Homo sapiens: one gene and its partner. The protein of the gene in region 1 interacts with the protein of each later gene in a pairwise test. Each region holds a gene or a part of one and is shown in the gene's direction. Other genes may lie near its edges.

Evidence for each region. Proteins that work in one complex are often made in the same cells at the same time.
Region 2: the proteins of CCDC68 (region 1) and CEP170 interact in binary tests that used the Homo sapiens proteins (3 or more experiments, as listed by UniProt).

Annotation. Positions count from the first base shown.
Region 1 is NC_000018.10:54,928,026-54,935,844, reverse strand, and holds part of CCDC68 (coiled-coil domain-containing protein 68), read left to right. Parts: intron 1-896; coding exon 897-1,025; intron 1,026-6,962; coding exon 6,963-7,045; intron 7,046-7,819. UniProt on the Homo sapiens protein: Centriolar protein required for centriole subdistal appendage assembly and microtubule anchoring in interphase cells. Together with CCDC120, cooperate with subdistal appendage components ODF2, NIN and CEP170 for hierarchical subdistal appendage assembly.
Region 2 is NC_000001.11:243,188,823-243,196,641, reverse strand, and holds part of CEP170 (centrosomal protein of 170 kDa), read left to right. Parts: intron 1-5,147; coding exon 5,148-5,624; intron 5,625-7,819.

The DNA of each region.
Region 1 (7,819 bases):
AGGAAAGTTCATTCATCATAGTTTGGGGCACCCAGGTGTCTGTCAGCTCAGGCTCTAAGAAGGTCCTCAGGGGAGTACAGTAGGAAATTCACTGCCTAGGTGACACCCTTTCATGCATCAGGCTGTGGTAGTGATGGTTGCAAACTCACATGCATGCTGGGTGCAGATGAAGAACATAAGCGGGAAGCGGATGAGGGTGCTATGCTATGGGGGCGCTTGTGGGGACGGGAAGTGTGCATCCCTGTAATGTGGGCTCGGCACCAGCCTGGAGTGACCTGACTGGAAGGCCCACTTGGTATTTACAAGGGAAGCCAGACACTTATTTTTCCCTGTGAAATGTCAAGCTTTGTTAAATACACACACAGAAGAGTAACAAGTTAGTCGACACAGTCCCACTGTAGCTTACTGCCTGCTAGATGGAGTCTTCTCTCCTATGATGGTTCAGAACAACCCCTGCTCTATGCCTATGAAGTAGCACCATGACACACTGAGGAGTTATTCTGCTTTTATGACACTTTCTAATTAAACATAAAACGTGTTTTAATTGAACATGTAAGGTTTTTTTTGTTCTGGATAATAATTGTTGAGAAAAAGTCAAAAATGTTGCTTTCGTTAAATTAGCATCTTTCTCTCTTATACCTGTTCAGGAAGTATGCTTTATGGTAACAAATGGAAACATTCTAGGAAGAATATTTATACATTATTAATTCTCTATTTAATGTTGTTGTAGTCTATCAGGGTTATTTTGAAGTAAACACTGAAATCAAAAGAGTAATTCTAAACAAGTATGAATTCTGAATTTTTTTGGCTAATTAGAAAATTATAGAAAGAGGTAATATGTGTATAGGTTTAAGAAAAACAGAGTTTTCACAACACAACTGATTCTCTGACCATAGGTTAACAAGCTTGAAAAAGAACAGAAATTGAAACAACATGTTGAAAATCTGAATCAAGTTGCTGAAAAACTTGAAGAAAAACACAGTCAAATTACAGAATTGGAGAACCTTGTACAGAGAATGGAAAAGGTACGCCCCTGGAGAATTAGAGGATTTTCTTACTGACAGCATTAGGATGAGAATGAAATAAAATAATACTAAAATAAATAGGATATTAAATTAAATAAGATAATATTATGTGAAAGTATTCTTTACAATTCTTGGCCTTAGGAAGTATTTAATATTAATTTTTCCCATAAACATTTCATATGATCTATACTGTGGTGATTGATTTACCTTTCTGCAAATACTGTAGTCATATCATCATTTGTCACTTTCTCTTTCTAGGAAATATGTGACTTAGAAAGGGGAACCAGGTGAGGCTGTGAATGCAAATAATGGAAAAGATCACAAAGTCCATCTATTAGGAGTAATAATGTAGCAGTTCCCTGTAATCACAGCATTTTTATGTATTAGAGTCAGTGCAGTATCCATTTTTGGCCACCCAAGTCTACTTTGTGTTTGGAAAAACCTACGGCTGCACTAGGAGAGATACAGTTCACATTAAGAAAATCTATTCTATAGAAATTGGAACTTTAAGAAGGCATATTTAGAGAAGAGCAATAATAGAAGAAAAATTTTAAAATGTTTCATGCCATGTTCATTTAAGTAGCTGGCACTCAAAATATACACAAAAGGTGAACACATAAATTTGTGTATGTATGCCATAGAATTTAGAATTTGGACAAATCAAGGAATATTTTTTATTAGCAAAACAAAGAGAAAACTGGCATCTCTGAAACTGAATTGGGGATAGAGAAAAATATAGGCTTTGGATACTAGTAAATATTGCCCAATACATTTTTTATATTTATTGTATTTGCCTGTATTCTTTTTAGCTTTAATTTGTTTTATGAGTCTGCCTGGGTTTATGCCATTTTATAAATGTCATTTCAAAAACATCACATTTCAATATTCAGGTTTCTTACCAAAGGAAACTTGATTTGTTTAAAAATGTTTCCCAAGAATTTAAAGTTTTATGACATTGTGATTTGGTTGAATTTGTAGTCTTGGTGAAGCTCCTATGAGGAAATCACAAAAATTAAATATGCCCATTATCAAGTGGCTCTAAGATAATATTCAGCTGCATGTGTATTATGTGGAAGGTCACTGAGTGTTATACTTTAGCAGAATCACTGGGTTAGAGTCTCCTTAAGCAATTAGTTTATCCAGGCATGACAATTTATAATTATGCTGTGTTGGAAAAACTGTAATATTTGGTTGTATACTTGGTAGTGGTAGAATACTTGATCCTATAATAAATAGCTTAACAAAACTAAGATAGCACAAAGAATGTTTGCATTAAGGAAAGAAAGACAATTCTGGGAAACGAATAAATTGCTTAACCAAACAACTTGATTAACCAGCTTAAAATTTAAGTTTAGTCTAGAGCTCACGCCATCTCAAACCCAGTGATATTGGTCAGGTTTAGTGGCAACCGTCACTGCCCCCAAATTAACAAAAGAACAGGCTGGGCATGGTGGTTCATGCCTATAATCCCAGCACTTTGGGAGGCCGAGGTGGGCAGATCATGAAGTCAAAGAGATCGAGACCATCCTGGCCAACATGGTGAAACCCCGTCTCTACTAAAAATACAAAAATTAGCTGGGCATGGTGGCACGCACCTTTAGTCCCAGCTACTTGGGAGGCTGAGGCAGGAGAATTGCTTGAACCCAGGAGGCGGAGGTTGCAGTGAACCGAGATTGCACCACAGCACTCCAGCCTGGTGACATAGCGAGACTCCGTGTCAAAAAAAAGAAAGAACAGTGGAAGATAATTTCTATTTCCTAGTAATCCCAAGAAATGTGTACTAGATGTTAGTTCATCTCAGAGTTCTGGGGTATATTTACTTGACTGTTTACTAAACAAATATTTGAACACCACCATGTGTAGCATAGAACTAGGGGCTGAATATATATTTGTGAATGAACCAGACAGTCTCTTTTTGTGGAGATGACAATGTAGTATATCTGGATTGTGTGAGGCTCAAGGAACTTCCCAGATCTCCCTTTCTTAATTCCTCTATGAGTCCTTTAGGGAGGCTGAAAGCCCAGTCAAAGGCAGAGGAGCATGCCCCAGAATAAGGTTCAGTGGCTCAGATCCTGGCAGGACATTCTTGGGAAGTGATGGCCTATCTCCTGCCCTGATAATAACTCGCAACAGTGGGCTGTCTCCAGGAGATCTTGGACAAAGGAAGCAGACAGGATGCACATGGCTTAGTAAGGCCATGCAGCAACCTTCCAGAATAGTTCAGTGACTTTCTGGAGGGCAAGCCTACTGGAATCTCTGGAGGGTGGAGGTAAGTGTGGATGATGTGGAGGGGAAATGTGCAGTTTTATTTAAAATAAAAAATGATTTAGGCCAGGTGTGGTGGCTCACGCCTGTAATTCCAGCATTTTGGGAGGCTGAGGCAGGAGGATCGCTTGAGGCCAGGAGTTCAAGACGAGCCTGGCCAATATGGTGAAACCCTGTCTCTCCTAAAAAAAAAAATTCAAAAATTAGCTGGGCATGGTAGCATGTGCTTGTAGTCCCAGCTACTCTGGAGGCTGAGGCATGAGAATCACTTGAACCTGGGAGGTGGAGGCTGCAGTGAGCCGAGATGACGCCACTGCACTTCAGCCTGGGTGATACAGCAGGACTCTGTCTCAAAAAAAAAAAAAACCAAATTGGTTTAAAAATATTTTATATTTGTGAAACAAGCAAATAAATAAAACTATAAGGAATGAAGTTTGGCAACTTCTTGGTTTAAAGAGAGACTGAGAAGACAGGCTGTGAGGAAGGGTGTCTCAGGTGGGGAGCGCAAGCCAGAGTAAGGGGAGGGTGTACTGGGCCTTTTGTATTAATAGGAAAAAGACACAAGTTCAAAAAGAAAGTAAAACTTAAAAACAAACATCCTCACAAAGGTTGATAAATATTGGCCTGGTCGTAGGTGCCCCCTGGAGAAAAATTTACTTGCTACTCACTTGAACAATCCACCGCTCCAGTAAATAGCCATTAGTAGTATGAGGTCTGGTAATGAACATATTACTTAAAACCTTCACCGTCTGTCCCACTTTAATCAGGAATGCAGTGAGAATGAATTCCATAAGCACAGTGATAAGCTAGCAAAAATGCCCAATAAGAGCATTTTAATATGGCATATGTTCCGTTTGCTAGCAGTGCAATTCTGTTACATCATATTTGTTTTCTAGTGTCATTGATTTAGCTCCATTGCAATTTTAGAGCTCAAAGGCACTTTTGAGACCACCTAGTTCCTCATCATCATTTTATAAATGAGGACAGCATGAACCAGAAACTATTCCACAATCCTCCACTTTCTAGATCACAACCCTTTCCATTATGCCCCCGTCTTCTCTAATGCTGGACAAAAATGATAGACTTGGTTCCAAAACATTTAGATGTTAGCATTTGGCAATGATTGAAATTGGTGCCCTCTCCGATCAGCCTGGTGAGGGAAACCTGGAGCTGTCTGGAGGTATGGCTCTGGGAATAGTGGGGTTGCCCACTGTGTGGTGCTGTGAACTCCCTTTCCCTTTCCTGAAGACATTGCCTGAGAAGCGCTATCTGGTATGGTGAGATTTTCTGTATTGTCAAAGAGGAGGCAAAAAGAACCCAAGCTAGATGGCAGAGCCTGGCCAAGGGAGAGCATTTACTTGTCCGGTTGTCTGGTCCCCTTGACCCCTGTTTATGAAAATCCATTAACCAAGAGTAAGTCTATTTAACATTTGTTAGGCACTATTTTCCCTCACCCTACAAATTCAAAATACATTATCTGTGGTGTGTTTTTTTTGACAATCCAAGCCTTATCATACGCTTGTAAGATGTATCTGTGGGCCGGGCGCAGTGGCTTACACCTGTAATCCCAGCACTTTGGGAGGCCAAGGCGGGTGGATCACCTGAGGTCAGGAGTTCGAGACCAGCCTGACCAACATGGAGAAACCCCGTCTCTACTAAAAATACAAAATTAGCCGGGCGTGGTGGTACATGCCTGTAATCCCAGCTACTCGGGAGGCTGAGGCAGGAGAATCGCTTGAACCTGGGAGGCGGAGGTTGCAGTGAGCCAGGATCGCACCATTGCACTCCAGCCTGGGCACCAAGAGCAAAACTCTGTATAAAAAAGAAGGAAAGAAAGAGAGAGAGAGAGAGAGAGAGAGGGAGGGAGGGAGGGAGGGAGGGAAGGAAGGAAGGAAGGAAGGGAGGGAGGGAGGGAGGGAGGGAGGGAGGGGAAGGGAAGGGAAGGAAGGAAGGAAGGAAGGAAGGGAGTGAGTATCTGTGATCCTTCAGAAATAATTTGAACACAGCTAGGGAAACTCCAGGACAATTTCTATCTGGCAAGAATACTATAAGAAAAATTTGAAAAAGCTAATTTTAAAACATAACAGAACACATTAAGATTTGAAGTAATTAGTGCCTTCAAATTATTATATATTGAGGTCCAAATATGTGCCAGGAAGCCTGTATGCCTTTTACATATATTATCTCTATTATCCCAACATTTCAATATAGGTAATATTATCCCCATTTTAGGAATGCTCAGAAGATACAAATATAAGTCAAATGAATATAGAATGAATACAAGTCAAATGTTGTAACTAACTCATTAATTAATGAGGGAAACAGTAAGATGAGAAAGCTGGTTTAAATAAAATATTTTCAGAAACTAGCCATTTATAGGCATTTTGGAGAAAAAGTGAAAAATAGTATAGGAGTACTAGATTAAATTTTTAAAAAATGGTTAATATTCTTTAAGGCAATTAAATCATAACCTTTGGGATTATGTCTTCTACCGGACAGAAATCTACAAATTTACATGCAACTTCACAGACTCAGGGCTCTAATGAAATAATAAATAATAAAAGCGAACACAGGGAAATTCTCTGAGAGAATTAAATAAATCTTGGGTCAGATGATTAAATGATGACCCAATATGATATTAAAACTGCATGCTGTATATTGTTTTTATTTCCAAGTTTGGGTTAATTTTTCTTAACATTGGTAAGGCCCAGAGAGTTTAAAACCTCGGCCAAAATTTAGAAACCAGGTAAGTCCCTATGTACAGTCTTTGTGATGTTTCTTCTATACAGCACTGCCTTGCTGTGTACCACTCACTCAGATGCTGCAGCGGGAAGTAATTTTAAACAGCATTATGGTTTCGGCACGCCTCTTCCAGTCAATTCCATCCATGTTGCCAATACCAATTCCTGCCTTTTTTCAATCTCCCTTGATTCTTTCCAACTTGGCAACCTAAACCATCAGGCCAAAGCACCAAATTCCTTTTTTTCAGCTGAGTGCCATCAAATATAAAATGAACACAGTCATCTCAGCTTCGTTTTTCATGGTCTTGTCTGTTTTCCTTTTGGATGGAAAAGCTTTGGCTTAATAATCAAATTAAGGCATCTTTTTAAAAGATATTCTTTCCTAGCATCATAAAATTGCAATCTCAGTTTCTCCTGTATCCTAATTGGAAAGCAGTTGTATCCTTTGTGGCCTTGATCCTTCATCAAAAACATGTTTATTGCTTTACTACCTTCTGACAGATGCCAAGTAGTATGTAGAGGTATCTAGTGTCCTTGGATACCAACAAGTCAGTCTAATGTAGGCGAAACAGGTGTAAGGGTGGGAGAGCCAGGGTCTAGCGAGAGATGGGCAGGATGTTTACATGTGGTAGGATGGGGAGAGATTAGTGGGAGAGGTTGAGCTGAACAGGCTATGGGCAATGCCCTGGAGGAGGAGCAGAAGAAGTCCTCCAGGCAGGTGAGAGAGTGAAGACAACTATTTTTGGCCTATAGTTGAACTATGTGCAAAGCACACAGGAGAATACTTGGCCAGGTTTCCTTGAAGATGAGGAGTAACAGCACATGTGAAATTAACTCTTTAGCTCAAGCCATAGTTATAGTATGACAAGAGGAAGGCCTTACCAAACATACACATGCAGTTTAGCAAAATTTGTATCTTATTTTCTCCTAGGAAAAGAGAACACTACTAGAAAGAAAACTGTCTTTGGAAAACAAGCTACTGCAACTCAAATCCAGTGCTACATATGGAAAAAGGTTTGTGAAGCTACCTGTTAAGTAAAGGCAGTTCCTGATTTCTTTCCTGTCCACTGGTATGCCAGCCAGGGAACAGAAGACCTTCTGTCCCCCAAAGAAATAGGATGACTGACAGTGCAGGAGGAAGGTTGAATTCTTGGGATTAACAGTCATGTAGTTATGTGCCTCCCCTTCCTCAAACTCAGAGGAATCACAGGGCAGTTGGGAGCCGGGGGCAGAGTTCACTGGGGGTGCAGGGAACCCTGCAGGAAGGTTAGTCCTTCTAAAGAGTGAATGAGTGAGTGAGCCTGGCACCTCCTGGTTTACCATTTGTGCTAAGGAGGACGCTTGAGAGATCTTTATTCCCTGATGCTTCTGTGTTTATTAATGAGTCACTTCTACAGCAGATATTACACTGGCCAGCCCACAAGCAGAATTCTAAGACAGTTTCCTGATACTCCTTAATTCTGTAAGGTGAAGGAAATGCTATGGACAATATCCTTAGTCCTTTGGACTTACTTATAAATACTCAAAGTTCACAAGCAGTCACAGTCCTCAGTATGCTGGGGATGGGTTTGTGGATATCACCATAATCGCTGTGCTACTCAGCCGCTATTAGAAAAAGTCTCTGTATTATCATGTAATAAATCATATCATAAGACATTTTATGAGATTTTTCTTTATTTTTAAAAAATTCTAAGTCCAACACAGTCATTGTATGTTCCGATATAATTATATAATATTGTTCAAAGTCAAATCGATTTCAAGATCTTAGTTTGTCATCCTAGAACTGTT
Region 2 (7,819 bases), on another chromosome or scaffold:
TCTGAAAATCAGTATGATAGTAATTTTTATCTTGCCGTTAAAATTTTAGCCCTCCCCTGTCACACACAAAACAGCTTTTGAAATCTGAAGCGCGTAACTTCTAACATACAGTGAAGTGTATATGTAATTTTTGTACAGAAGGCACAACCATGATTTACAGTAATAGCTAACACTTCAGTAGGGTTTACTTTATCCAACATTCTTCTGAGTGCTTTGTATGCATTTATTTAATCATCACAGCAATACCTAAAGGTACAGTTACGGTGATTTTGTAGATAAAGAAACTGAGGCATACTGAAATTAATTTACTTGTCAAAGTCACCCAACTACAAATAATGGAGCTGGGATTTGAACTTAGATTGCCTGACTCCTGAGTCCACGCTCTTAACCATAAGAAGTTTTAATATTTCAGCCATCATTACTCTTGTAAACACAATCACTCTAAAAGGATATACTTCATAGGGTACAAAGATTTAAACAAATACTCCAAAATCAAATAGCCATAAAAATTGATCCCTCCTAGCTCAGCATAATAAAATAAATTTCAAATGTGAAGCATCCAGCAATACTTTCATCTATATGAATGTAACTGAATTCTCAGCTTGTGTACTCTTTCTGCTAGATGACCAAAAGCCGTCTCATGATCTTGGGGTTCTTTTTGAGTAATAATTCAGTGATTTATGTCTTGTGTCAAATTCCTTAAAGTGCCCTGTCAGATACAGCTGATTAGTAATAGCCTTAAGAGACTCTCACTTGCTTTCTTATGTTAGTATGAGGATATTACTGTTTCAGATTTATCATTTGCAGCTTTTTAAAATATAGGATGAGGAAAATAGTTTACTGTCTTGTAATAATTTATGAAGCCAGCAGAAATTGTAGAATCAGATTTGAAATGTATATCAAGTGTTCTTTAATGTGGTCATTTTGAAATTAAGGTATTTTTAAAAACTTAAACTTTTTTTTTAAGTTTCAAATTGTGGAATATACGTGATTAGTTTAATAATTTATCCTGTAGCATACTCTTAGTGAAAGCAAAAAGTGATTTGCTTCTTCGTTATTAATTTTTAGAGTTGCATTCCAGAAAGGATAATAGAGTGTTTGCTACCTAGTAATTTTTAACGTTCCTCTCTGTGGGTTCATATATATCCAGAAACTCCCGAAGACTTGCCATATAGCTTAAAAAGCCCTGGTTTAAGCAAATACTTACTTTAGAGCAATTTCGTTCTCCAGAAATTGTGTGACTATTTTTAATCGTATTAAGACGTAAAGTTTGTCCTCAATTTATTTACAGCTATGCTTTTCTACCTCCTAACTTGGTCTCAACAATTAATTTAGGTTATAATTAAAGGCCTTTAACTGTTGCACACATTTTGAAATGGCATGTGCAACTGGGAATCATAGATTTTTGGCTCTCTCATGTTGATTTTTAATCCAGCGAAACTAAATTTGGAAATTTTCAAGTCGTAGCTCCTTTTAAGCAAAAGGAGCTTCCCAGTCTTCTTAATTTGACATGCTTGAACAGACTAGGTTAGATGGATGTCTTAAGCAGAATGAGCTGTTATAATTATAGTCCTTGTCATCTCAAATAAGTTTAATATTTCATTGAATTTAGTACAGAAGAATGAAAAGAACATTTATTCTGGATGAAGTATAAGTATCCCTTATAACATATTGTGTTAAGGTAACACAGTCATAAAATACCTTAAGAACATAAGCAGATTATCACCAATTGCTTTTCTGATTGAGATATATGGAATTAATTATGGCATAATCAATCATTAAATAATTTTTTAAAATCTAGTAATTGAGATTAATAATATAATATTAGTCTAAACAAGTATTTACTCTATTATTTAGTTTCATTTGGTATAACAAAATGAGTTTTGAAGATAGATGAATGTTAAATTTCTAAATTCCAGAATATGTTCTGTTAGTGTTCTGAGGGAGGAAAGGTGTTTTATTTTTCTGTGTTGATTAGAAGACCCCTTATAGTTTTCTATTAGGTACTTCTCAAGTGTAGTTGGACCACACTTCATCTGTTTTTATCATCTTTAGGGAAATGAATCCTTCCACATAATGAATTTTCCAGATGATTGAACTTTACTTTTACAGTTGATAGTTTTTTTGAAGTTTAACCATTTCCTAAGTTTCTATTAAATTAATTACCCATATTACCACCTTCTTAAGCAGAGAAGTTTCAGTATAATTTAAAACTTTTTCTTATGACTCAAAATCATCAATCATCAATATCAGTATTACTATTATATATATCAATAGCAATAGCAATATTGATATAATCAATAATCAAATATATTAGTAATATAATAATACTGATACTGCCTTACAGTAATGTCCTCAGGAGACTGTAGTATATAAGACTGTTTGCCCTATATACTGAATGGTACTGGACTATCATGTTTTTGGGGCCATTTGTCTGCTCTTGTTTTTCATCTTGTCTCTACCACTTGGTGCAATTTGTCTGTCCTTAATCCTCACTTTTGTACCCTGCCCAAGGTTTGCTACATGTGATCTGAGTAAATAGTAAAAACCTCTCGGTGAAGATCTTAACTGTTAGTAATGTTTATGAATATTCAAGGATAGGCATTGTCATATCTGTCTTGGGTTTTTTAGAGTTGGGTTTTGGTATTAGCTTTTTGTCTTCCTGATTCTCAGCTGTTTTTGAAGGTGGAGGGAGAAGCATTTATTTGTGTACCTGCTTTGTTCTGGGTAACTTACATGATCTCACTTAATACTCATCTCACTAAATCTTCACAACAATCTTATGGGAAGATACTGTTTTCTCACTTTATGATGAGGAAAATGAGGACTACAGACTGATTAGGGATAAGATTTATCTGATTTCAGATCTTGTCTGGGCTTTGCATGAAACCAGGCTGCCTGGTTATGATCATCAGATCATAGTCTGCTGCCTTTCCACTCTATTGTGCTACTTGACCTGGTTAGGTACTTGATTTCTAGATGAATTAGTTATTAACTTGTATAAGTCTCAAGTTTCTAGCTTTGAGTGAATGCGAGTTTGAAGTAGTACTAACATGGGAATGGTGACCTTCAAAACAGGTGACCTTGATAAGTGCTATATCCCTGGCCAGCTTTTTTGTGTTGCTTCATAGCTGAGCCACATCAGTTTTATTTAGCTCTCTGTATAGTGGATCAGTTTTATTTGGCTCTCTGTGTAGTGGTATTAGAAACTACCATCTTGACGTTGTTCTGTCACCTGAAGGATGAGCAAAGCAAAAACAAACTATATGTATATATCTATATGGGGGGAGGGAGAGAGGACAGGTTTATGAACCAGTTGTACTGTATGGACTTGATCAAGTACAGTACATTGTGCATAGTAAAAAAAAATCAATGTCTGAAAAAATAGAAAAATAACATTAATGAACTATTAATATATGAGAAGCAGTTAATACATTTTATTCTAATGGAAATTTTAACTAACATGACTTCAGAGTAAACACTCACAAGTCCAGCTGAACATTTTATTTTTAAGAAAAAGACAAATTAACTCTTTAATCAAACATTTTTTTAAACTTAGGTCATGTCATATAAATGTATGATTATTTCTCTGATAATGTAGAGTTTTTCCAATACTTTTCTTTCATGTTCAGTGATAGGAAAGCTGAGTAGATTTTAAAAGGGATAATTTTTCACAGTGAAAATTACAATATATTCTTTCATATTATATGTTCTCTTTGCCTTGTGTTTAGATTTTTTTGACAATTTATTATTATTATATTTATTGTGGAAATGGAGCTTGTTGTCTTCCGTGCCCTATCCCACACATTTGATTATGAAAGAGAGATGTTACTATATCATTCTTCTGTAACCTAAAAGCAGTCAGGTTTTATATTATTTCATATTCAGACTGCTGTCAAGAAACCAATTATAGTACCTGACAGATCCCACTAAAATTTAATTTTTGAAAAGATGTTTCAAAAGACCAAACGCTTCACTTAATTAGAAAATGTTTGGAAACAACCTAGTCTCCCTGTATTGCCTTGTTTTCCTAATAAATTGTCTGTAAGTGATTTTTCTATTAATCTGTTTAAAAGCAGAATTTATTTTTGAGCTTTAGGGAAATATGTCTCATTTCAACTTGCTCTTCATTTTGATAATGGACATGCTTTGCTTCTTCAACAACAGGACAATAGCATCTTTAATTTTTTTATTTTGCATTTGCGTACCGAAAACGTTTTAGTTGTCATTTTTATTTATGTATTTTATTCATAAATGCATCTGTTTCTATACTTTTGTATTAGATTCTGAGGCAACAGAAGAATAGTGATAGTGTTCCAGAGTTGCTTGCTCCTTCTGCCAACTCATGTTAATCTGAGGTTTACAATTCAGCTTTCCTCCAAGGAATTTTGACACTTTTGCATATTCTGCTGTATGGAAATGTAAACTTCCAGAGTTATTGTCTGGAAACTGAATTTCCTATTTTAACCTTATTTCGTTCACACTGCTGCTTGGATTGCAAACCACATGTTTTAGTCTTTATAAAATGTTTGTATCTTCTTGCAAGGATCGCACTTCAGCAATATCTTTGTCATTCTGAAAGTAATGTTTCCGAATGTAATGGTGAAGAATGGTAAGTGGAATCATTACTTCCAGAAGATCACTTACATATTTACTTCATGTTTGTATTCTCATTTGAGCACCTATTCTCCTTTGGAGCACTACATGTGTTCATATATATTTCAGATATCTCATCTTGGCGACTTGAGAAGGGAGTTCATGGTTTTTCTGTCACTTTTTATATATACATTGAACATGCATCTCCATCTACATTTTATTTTAATTCTTTTGGACCTTGATGAATTCTAGATCCAGGTTGGAAAAAATATGGACCTAGCCATGCAAGATCCATTTCTTAACTGCTTTGCTCTCATTTGCCATTGCTGCTGCTTATCTTCCATCCCCTATTGGTAATCAAATCGCATGTTTATAATCAAGATTCTTTCTTCTCTGTGACATTTGTTCTGTGATATAAATGCCATTGGTTTTCATCCAGACTGTGATCTGCCTTCTGGTTCTCACGGAGTAGTACACATGGCCATTACCAGACTCCCTCAAGTGCCAGAAGCAATCAAATATTTTGAATTTTCTCTTATTTTTCTCATTAGGGTGCGGCATAGATGCCAAGCAAGTTGAGGAACAATCTGCAGCTGCAAATGAAGAAGTACTTTTTCCTTTCTGTAGGGAACCAAGTTATTTTGAAATCCCTACAAAAGAATTCCAGCAACCATCACAAATAACAGAAAGCACTATTCATGAAATCCCAACAAAAGACACGCCAAGTTCCCATATAACAGGTGCAGGGCATGCTTCATTTACCATTGAATTTGATGACAGTACCCCAGGGAAGGTAACTATTAGAGACCATGTGACAAAGTTTACTTCTGATCAGCGCCACAAGTCCAAGAAGTCTTCTCCTGGAACTCAAGACTTGCTGGGGATTCAAACAGGAATGATGGCACCCGAAAACAAAGTTGCTGACTGGCTAGCACAAAACAACCCTCCTCAAATGCTATGGGAAAGAACAGAAGAGGATTCTAAAAGCATTAAAAGTGATGTTCCAGTGTACTTGAAAAGGTTGAAAGGTAAAGTGATTTGATCATTCAGAACTTCCTACTTTACGATAAAGAAAATCTGGTCTTCATTTACTAGACTACTAGTAGATACTTACATGGTAGAAAACATTCTGCTTTTTTCAAAGGTTATATTTAGTCTTAAAACTAAACAGGAAGCTACACTGCCCATGTCCAATTTCCTCATTCAAAATAGTCTTCCTTCATTTTCTTGACAAAACCAGATTGGTTTTATGAGCTTATATTTATGCTATAAAACATGTTTCTTTTTCTTCTAGAAATATAAGATTTATTAAGTTTACCAGTAGAGTTCCCTAGAAGATGAGTTCCATCATTTTCTTGATTTAAGGAAAAGATATATTCAATTCTGTTCTCTATTGAGATCAATATCTAGATTCTGAAAGAAATTTTAAGTCATTTGGTCTGAGCCAAAAGTTCTACTTTGGTAATGCAGTCACATCATTGATGGAGCGCTTCAAAGTATTCTCAGTGGTTACTCATAAAACAAAGATTTTTGGTTTAGAAATATTTGGTAGGATCTATTAATCCAGTTTTAAAATTTTTTTTAATATTAGGACTTCATGAAAATTAGAGTTGAATGTTCATTTTTGAAATAGTTATATATACTTTATTTGTGTAGAACTTAGCCAAAATTAGTACAATTTGTATGTTTGTACACTGATGTATCAGCTGATCAGTTTTTTCTCATTGGTTTTGCCAATTAAATTTATTTTAGAATTGAGTATAGATTTATGTTACCCTATCTTTTATTTAATAAGCTATCTATAAGGAAAACGATTTTGAACAAATTGTGATTACACGTTTAGCTGACCATTCTGTTACTATATTAGGAGTTTTTGTACTCCTAACACTTCATCTAGTACTTGAGCATGTGATAGGTACTAATTTGAAAACAATGGGCGATTTCTCTGTCAATGACAAGACTGTCCCTGATTTAATCTGTACCTTATGTCCTGGCATTCTGATCAAGTAATGAAGAAATAGTATTTGTATACTTATTTCTGATTTGCTTCTAAGACATTTCCGGACAGTGAGATGATGTGATTACCTAATTATTTGTTGGAGCCTATCACAATATTTAATTATAGTTATCAGCAGTTACCTGGCATATGTATTTTTGAGACATGATTGTGACATTTTACTTCTAGACAATACGTAATTGAGACATTTTGTTTCTGTAGGTTAACACTCACAAACACATAGGCTGTTTATATGAATTGGATAAATAATATTGATCTCCTAGTACAGTATAAGAGGTAGCTGAACCTTGAGAATTTAGAAATAACTTAGACTTTTTAAAACCACTCTTAATAAACAAAAACTGAGGTAAAATATCCTTTTAAAAGGTAATCATTTTAAAAATACCTTTATTAAACCCATTTATAACTTAGTCATTATAACTATTTTCTATATTGACTATTATTATTACTACTATTTTTTTTTTTTTTTTTTGGAGACAGAGTCTCGCTTTGTCACTCAGGCTGGAGTGCAGTGGCGCGATCTCGGCTCACTGCAAGCTCCGCCTCCTGGGTTCACGCGATTCTCCTGCCTCAGCCTCCCGAGTAGCTGGAACTACAGGCGCCCACCACCACACCCGGCTAATTTTTTTTATTTTTAGTAGAGACGGGGTTTCACCGTGTTAGCCAGGATGGTCTTGATCTCCTGACCTCGTGATCCACCCACCTTAGCCTCCCAAAGTGCTGGGGTTACAGGCGTGAGCCACCGCGCCTGGCCTGTATCGACTATTATTTTTAAGCCATTATTTTAAAACGTTCTGTCCTCACAAGCCCATTTGTGGGCCTAATTCCAAATAGAGGGATTAATGTCCACATGTATACTATATCTGTATTTTAATGATTAGATCTTTTAAGCCCTTACTAGAAATTATGTAATCATATTACTGTTGTCCTTCAAAGTTGATTTATAGGTAGACATACATTCCAGTATGGTGCCAGTGTGAGAACTCTTCTTTTGGATTTGCCTTCAGACCATTTTACAAGCCATTGAAGATAATGTTTTTGTGAATATAACTCATTTTTTGATCCAAGATAGACTCATTTTACTTTTCTGGACATGTGTATAAATGACATGTGACTTTCTCCAAAAGTCAGAGCTTCCATCATTAGATAACAATTTTCCATGATTTAGGATATAAAAAGTATATAGCCAGACTCTAAATAAATGTA